2 linked regions of the Homo sapiens genome follow. The protein of the gene in region 1 purifies or fractionates together with the protein of each later gene. This does not show direct contact. Each region holds a gene or a part of one and is shown on either strand. Other genes may lie near its edges.

Evidence for each region.
Region 2: the proteins of VIL1 (region 1) and CHM fractionate together in Homo sapiens (co-fractionation; one large-scale study listed by BioGRID). This does not show direct contact.

The regions. Positions count from the first base shown.
Region 1 is NC_000002.12:218,429,088-218,432,903, forward strand, and holds part of VIL1 (villin-1), read left to right. Parts: intron 1-197; coding exon 198-400; intron 401-509; coding exon 510-588; intron 589-761; coding exon 762-860; intron 861-1,637; coding exon 1,638-1,791; intron 1,792-2,769; coding exon 2,770-2,870; intron 2,871-2,958; coding exon 2,959-3,096; intron 3,097-3,705; coding exon 3,706-3,816.
Region 2 is NC_000023.11:85,865,766-85,869,581, forward strand, and holds part of CHM (rab proteins geranylgeranyltransferase component A 1), read right to left. Parts: intron 1-3,816. UniProt on the Homo sapiens protein: Substrate-binding subunit of the Rab geranylgeranyltransferase (GGTase) complex.

The sequences.
Region 1 (3,816 bases):
TGCTCTCCCAGCTGCCTTCCCCCTGGTTTCCTTACATGCCTTAAAAGCTTGACCCCTCCGACGGGGAAAAGCAGGGCAGGGGTCTCAACCCCTGTGGCTGCTGTAGGTGGTCTGGGCTTGCCTGGCAGGGTGTAGGGTGGCAGACACTGCCTCATTCCCCGACTACTCCCGATGGGTCACCAGGGGCCTTCCTGCAGGGCATGACTCTGGCCAAGGAGATCCGAGACCAGGAGCGGGGAGGGCGCACCTATGTAGGCGTGGTGGACGGAGAGAATGAATTGGCATCCCCGAAGCTGATGGAGGTGATGAACCACGTGCTGGGCAAGCGCAGGGAGCTGAAGGCGGCCGTGCCCGACACGGTGGTGGAGCCGGCACTCAAGGCTGCACTCAAACTGTACCAGTGAGCGCCCAGCGGGGTCTTCCTGGGTGCTGGGGACTCCCTGGGAGAAGGTGCCCTGGCTGAGGGACTTGGGCCCCCTCCCCATCTATGCCTTGCTTCTGTCCTGCAGTGTGTCTGACTCCGAGGGGAATCTGGTGGTGAGGGAAGTCGCCACACGGCCACTGACACAGGACCTGCTCAGTCACGAGGTAAGAGGGTCTGGAGACCCCTCAGCCTACTGCAGCCTGGCCCCCTTTCCCTCAAGCAGGAAAAATTCCAGGGGGCTTGGGGTGGGCCTGGGAGGGAGAGACTTTTTTGTGTGTGAGGCTTTCCCAGTCCAGCACCTCCAGCTCCATCAGACTCTTACCTCTCCCGACTCTAGGACTGTTACATCCTGGACCAGGGGGGCCTGAAGATCTACGTGTGGAAAGGGAAGAAAGCCAATGAGCAGGAGAAGAAGGGAGCCATGAGCCATGCGCTGGTAGTGGTGGGGGCGGGGGAGGGTCCAGGAGGAGGGCAGAGTGATGGGAGGGAGAGAGCAGATAGCAGCATGGGGTGGGCAGGCAGGCTCAGACCAGGGCATAGTGCCAGGCAGAGGCAGGGAAGGCTGGGAGGAGCAGGATGAGGGCTGGGCCCGGCCCAATGGGAGGGGCCTGAGGGGCCATTCTGTGGTCATCTTCGGGGTTCTCTGCACACCAGGGAGCCAACCACCAGGCAACCCTGGGGCCACCTCAGGATGTGGGCTCTCACCTCCCTGCACCTGAGCTGAGTTTGGAGAAGGGAAGGAGAAATGGAGGGAGGCTGGCTTCCTACAAAAGGGGATTGGGTCAGCTCAGACCAGGGCCAAGTCAGAGTTTGGGGTCATTGCTGGGGCTGGAGTCGTAACCCTAACTGGCTTGGGGCCAGTGTTGGATTGGGGACTGGGCATTAGGATTAGCATTGAGGTAGGGTCACATTAGGCGTTAGATTTGGCTTTGGGATTGGGGTCAGAGTTGTGTTTCGGTATTAGATTTGAAGCTGAGGTCAGAGTGAGTCTTGAGGCCAGTGTTAGGTTTCAGGCGGTATCAGATTTGACCTTGAGGCTGGGGTCAGAGTAGGGTTAGGTTGGGGATTAGCATTGGGATTGGGTTTGGGTTCAGTTTTGGTGCCGGGGTAGATCTGATGGTGGATCTGGTTAGGTTAGAGCTAGGTTTTGGCTTGCATTGGGAGTGGGGACTAGGGGAGGTGCATAGCTTCCAGCCACCCCTTTCTCTTCCAGAACTTCATCAAAGCCAAGCAGTACCCACCAAGCACACAGGTGGAGGTGCAGAATGATGGGGCTGAGTCGGCCGTCTTTCAGCAGCTCTTCCAGAAGTGGACAGCGTCCAACCGGACCTCAGGCCTAGGCAAAACCCACACTGTGGGCTCCGTGGGTGAGGGCCAGGCGGGGGCAGTGAGGGAGCCAGGATCCAGGAGCTGGGCCAGGAGAGCCACTTGGTCCACCACCCACCCTCCTTCCCTGACGTGCATCTTCAACGAAGACTTTTACGCTGGCTCTGGGCTTGTCCTAGCAGATGGGGACGTGGACAAACTCTAGTTGTCACAAAAAGGGAGCTGAGAGGGCTGGGCATGGTGGCACATGCCTGTAATCCCAGCACTTTGGGAGGCTGAGGCGGGTGGATCACCTGAGGTCAGGAGTTTGAGATTAGCCTAACATGGTGAAACCCCGTCTCTACTGAAAAAAAGAACTAATAAATTAGCCAAGCATGGTGGTGCATGCCTGTAACCCCAGCTACTCAGAAGGCTGAGGCTGGAGAATCGCTTGAATTCAGGAGGCAGAGGCTGCAGTGAGCCAAGATCATGCCATTGCACTCCAGCCTGGGCAACAAGAGCGAAACTCCATCTCAAAAAAAAAAAAAAAAAAAAAAGGGGAGCTGTCAGTGATGTGATATTTCATTTGGGATGGGGTTGGGCCTCCCTGAAAACCGAACAGCTTCAGTCTCTTACCAGCCAGTATTTGCTGAGGGCAAGCTCGGTGCCCAGCACCTAGGAGAGGACAAGTAATAGTGTACAGCCCCCAACATTGCACAGCTCCCTATTGAGCTGGGAGACAAGGTCAAGGCTTGAAGTCTGAATGCTGCAGGGGTCAGGACGTAGATCAACAAAGCTAAAGCCTTGCTCTTATGCCTCTCCTGGCTCCCTGGGAGCAGGAGTTTTAGAGGGAGGGAGATGTGGTTCTCTATTGTAGCTCTGCCACATTCTGTGCAACCAGGTAAGCTACTGAATCTCTCTTGCCTCGGTTTCCTCATCTGAAAATGAGTCTAAGAATTGTAGCCACCATTCAGGGCTGTTGTGAGGACCTGGGAGACCTCAGCTGGTGACAGTTGGTTTCATGATTTCCCCCACTCTAGCCAAAGTGGAACAGGTGAAGTTCGATGCCACATCCATGCATGTCAAGCCTCAGGTGGCTGCCCAGCAGAAGATGGTAGATGATGGGAGTGGGGAAGTGCAGGTATGTGAGGGCAGAGAGGCCCGTGCTGGGTGGAGCAGGAATGGTGGAGCCTGTCCTGGACCTCACCCTGGCCTGATACTGGCCCTAGGTGTGGCGCATTGAGAACCTAGAGCTGGTACCTGTGGATTCCAAGTGGCTAGGCCACTTCTATGGGGGCGACTGCTACCTGCTGCTCTACACCTACCTCATCGGCGAGAAGCAGCATTACCTGCTCTACGTTTGGCAGGTCAGGTCCCGCCACGTCCCACCCAGAGCACAGCCGGCTTAGCTCTGCCTTGTACATACTCCTGCTAAGTGGCCATCACCCTTGGGTTGAATACCTCTGGGGATGGGGTGCTCACCCCTTCAAGAAGGACTGCTTTGGCTATGAGGTCCCGCTAGTACCCCCATTCACAGCCCTTTTCCTTTTGGTTCTCTGAGTCTCCCTTCCAATTTTCATTGCCTTCTGCACATTCTTGTCACCTGCTCTGCCCATGGGTTTTTGTGTCTAGATGCGAGGGAGCAGGGAGTGTGTCTAGGACTGAGTGGTGTGGTGCCTGTGATGTCTCCCTGAAGAAGGAGCAGAAAGGAAAGGAGGAGGTTTGGGGTTAAGGCTGGGGTTGCAGGTAGGTCAGGGCTGGGCTGGGTCTGGGAAAGAATTAGGTTTGAGGTTGAGATCAGAACTGAGGTATGGTTCAGATTGGGGTTTTGGCTGTTTCACAGTGGAGTTTGGTGGGGAAGACAATTGGGTTTAGGACCAGTTCAGACTTGAGGATGGAGTTGTTGCTGAGGCTGAGGATGGGGTCAGAATTGGGGGCTGACCCAATCCCACTCACTCCCTCCTGCTCATCCCCAGGGCAGCCAGGCCAGCCAAGATGAAATTACAGCATCAGCTTATCAAGCCGTCATCCTGGACCAGAAGTACAATGGTGAACCAGTCCAGATCCGGGTCCCAATGGGCAAGGAG
Region 2 (3,816 bases), on another chromosome or scaffold:
TGACTCTTGCTATGCTTTAGCAAAGAGACTAGTAGCATTTTCTCCCTGCCCTAGAGATCTGTGAAACTTTGAACTTGAGAAAGATGATTTAGGGTATGTGGCAGAAAAAATTTCTAAGCAGCAAAGCATTCAAGAGGTGACCCAGCTGATTCTGAAAGCACTCAGTCATGTGTGTTCACAAAGAGATGCCTTCACATTGGAACTTATGTTTAAAAGGGAAGCAGAGCATAAAGGTTTGGAAAATTTGCAGTCTGACCATGTGGGAGAAAAGAAAAAACCATTTTCTGGGGAGGAATTCAAGCTGGCTATAGCAATTTGCATGAGCAATGATGAGCCAAATGTCAATAGACAAGACAATGGGGAAAATGTCTCCAGGGCATGTCAGAGATCTTCCCTAGGAGGAAAAATGGTTTAGTGGGCTGGGTGGGCCCCACTGCTCTGTGCAGCCCTGGAACATGGTACCCTACATCCCAGCTGCTCCAGCTCCAGCCATGGCTAAAAGGAATAAAGGTACAGCTTGGGCTGTTGCTTCAGAGGGTGCAAGCCCCGAGCGTTGCCAGCTTCCACGTGATGTTGGGCCTGAGGGTGCACAAAAGACAAGAGGTGAGGTTTGGGAGCTTCTGCATAGATTTCAGAGGATGTTAGGAAACGCCTAGATGGCCAGGCAGAAGTCTGCTGCAGGGGTAGAGCCCTCATGGAGAACCTCTGCTAGGGCAGTGCTGAAGGGAAATGTGGGCTTGGAGCCCCCACAAAGAGTCACCACTAGGGAACTGTTTAGTGGAGCTGTAAGAAGAGGGCCACTGTCCTCTAGACCCCAGAATGGTAGCTCCACTGACAGCCTGCACCATGCACCTGGAAAAGTCACAGGCACTCAATGCCAGCCCATGAAAGCAGGCACAGTGCCTATCCCCTGCAGAGCCACAGGGTTGGAACTGCCCAAGGCTGTGGGAGCCTAGCCCTTGTATCAGCATGGCCTGGATGTGAGACATGGAGTCAAAGGAGATTTTGGAGCTTTAAGATTTAATGACTGCCCGGCTGGGTTTTGGACTTGCATGGGGCCTATGGCCCCTTTGTTTTGTCCAATTTCTCCCATTTGGAATGGGGACATTTACCCAATGCCTATACCCCATCGTATCTTGGAAGTAACTAACTTGCTTTTGATTTTACAGGTTCATAGGCAGAAGGGACTTGACTTGTCTCAGATGAGACTTTGGACGTGGACTTTTGAGTTAATGCTGGAATGAGTTTTAAGACTTTGGAGGGCTGTTGGGAAGGGATGATTGGTTTTGAAATGTGAAAAGGACATGAGATTTGGGAAGGGTCGGGGCAGAATGATATGGTTTGGCTCTATGTCCCTACCCAAATCTCATTTGCAATTGTAATCCACAAGTATTAGGGAGGGACTGGTGGGAGATGAATGGATTATGGGGGCACTTTTCCCCATGCTGTCCTCGTGATAGTGACTTCTCACAAGATCTGATGGTTTAAAAGTGTTTGGCAGTTCCCTCTTTGCTTTCTTTGCTCTCCTGCCGCCATGTAAGACATGCCTTGCTTCCCCTTTGCCTTCCACCCTGATTTTACATTTCCTTAGGCCTCCCCAGCTATGAGGAACTGTCAGTCAATTAAACCTCTTTTGTTTATAAATTACAGTCTCAGGTGGTATCTTTATAGCAGTGTGAGGACAGACTAATACAAGCCCACATGTGATACTGGTATAGTCTAATTTAGCATATAGTAATTTTAACAAGTCACTGTTCAAATGAAGAAAACTCTTCACTGTTTGTTCAACTATTTGCTTTTTGATAGAATTTCCATTCCCTGGACTTTAAGGACTATAGCACTTGTTTAAGCTCATGGGTTTTGAAAAGATAGCCTCAGTAAAAATACTGGCTCTACGATTTAGCAGTTATGTGATTTGGGGAATGCTTTCTCAATTTCCGAGCTTTGGCTTCCTTATCTATAAAATATCAGAGATTAAGCCGACATATATGGTAGCTATTTTCATTATTACTAATAATAACATAAGTAAAAATGTCAAGATTTAAGCTGAACTTATTAGTATGACAGGGTAACAGAATAAAAAACCTTCAAGGGTATGTTCTTGGACATGCCAATTACTATAGACAATTTAAGTTTTTAAATACTTAATTGACAAAAAGTATATATATTTAAGGTGTACAAGGTCACTTGATATACACTGTGTAATGATTACCACAATTAAGTTAACACGTCCATCACCACTAATAGTTACCACTGTGTGTGTGTGTGTGTGTGTGTGTGTGTGTGTGTTTGTAGTAAGAATACTTAAAATCTGCTCTCTTGTCAAATTTGAATTGAAGAATCCTGTCATTTATGACAAGATAAATGAACCTGGAGGACATTATGCTAAGTGAAATAAGCCAAGCACAGAAAGACAAATATCACATGATCTCACTTATATGTAGAATCTAAAAAAGTTGAGGGTGGTTGCCAGGGGCTGGGGAGTGTAGAGCTGTTGGTTTAAGGGTATGAACTTTCAGCTATAAGTTCTGGGGATCTAATGTACAGCATGGTAACTATAGCTAACTGCATTTTTTATTATGGCTATTTGGAAATTAAACATTACAGATGCCTGTCTTTGCTCTCCATCCCGGAGACTCACCATACTCCTTTGCTAGAGACACGCAACCCCTGTAGAAGCAGGACCTAGATCAGACAAAGCCATTACCTCATACTTCCGTTCCCCTAATGGTCTTTTTGTCTTACATCTCTGTTTTTACTATCTGTAAAAGTTCTCCCTCCCTTTTATCTTTGGCATGCAAACAATCATCAAATTCTATCAATTTTATCTTCTATCTCTTAACTTCATCTGTTCCTTCCCCACTGACATAGCCCAGACATGCACCATCTTTCAACTAGACAACTACAATAGCCTCAGAATTGGACTGGTCTCCTTGCCTCTAGAGTTCCCCCATATAATCCATCTCCATGCCATCCTCAGATGGGTCAATGGAAAATAAAATTCTGTTTATTCCATTTTTGGCTTAAAATTCTTCAATGACTCCCCATCACCAATAGGATAAAATCCAAGATTCCTACTATAGAAAATAAAACCCTTCAGGCCTACCTTCTCTGATCTTATCATATACCATTTCATCTAGCCTCCATCTCTCAGACTTCTTGATTTACTAATACCTGTTTATTTGTATGAAACAATACACCATGATATTTATCTTTTACATCCTGGACTGGTACCAATGTTATTCTTCACATCCAGAATGTTTCAATTCTACTGTCTTTGATTTAGATGGAGAATTGCTACTCTTCTGTTATACCCCTCTCCGTAAGGTTCTCTGACTCCTAGATTGGGCTCATTTCTCCTTTCTGTTATTTCTAGACTTTGGATATATTAGTACATACGCCACACTACACTGTCATTTGTTTACATGCTTTTCTCCTTTACCTGACAGTGATTCCTCCAGGATGACAAATACTTTTAGTCAACTCTGGATCCTTAGTGCCTTGGCATAAAATAGAATGTCAGTAACATTTAATACAAATATTAAGTATAAATATAATAATTATTATTACTACTAATTCTTTTACTTCTTCTATGCTAGTTCCTCTGTGTTTGACACCTTGTCTCCCTTTTGCCTCCTCCCCATAGAATAGCTTTTACCCTAAACTCCAGTCTCTGTGGCTGGATCCCACACCACATACTTCCATATATCTTGTCATGCACCACCTGCCTCCTAAGATTAGCACCAGTTGCAGGTTGTCACACCACTCTTTCTTGTGTTCTACCTGCTTATGAAACTCCCACCTATAGCCCATCTG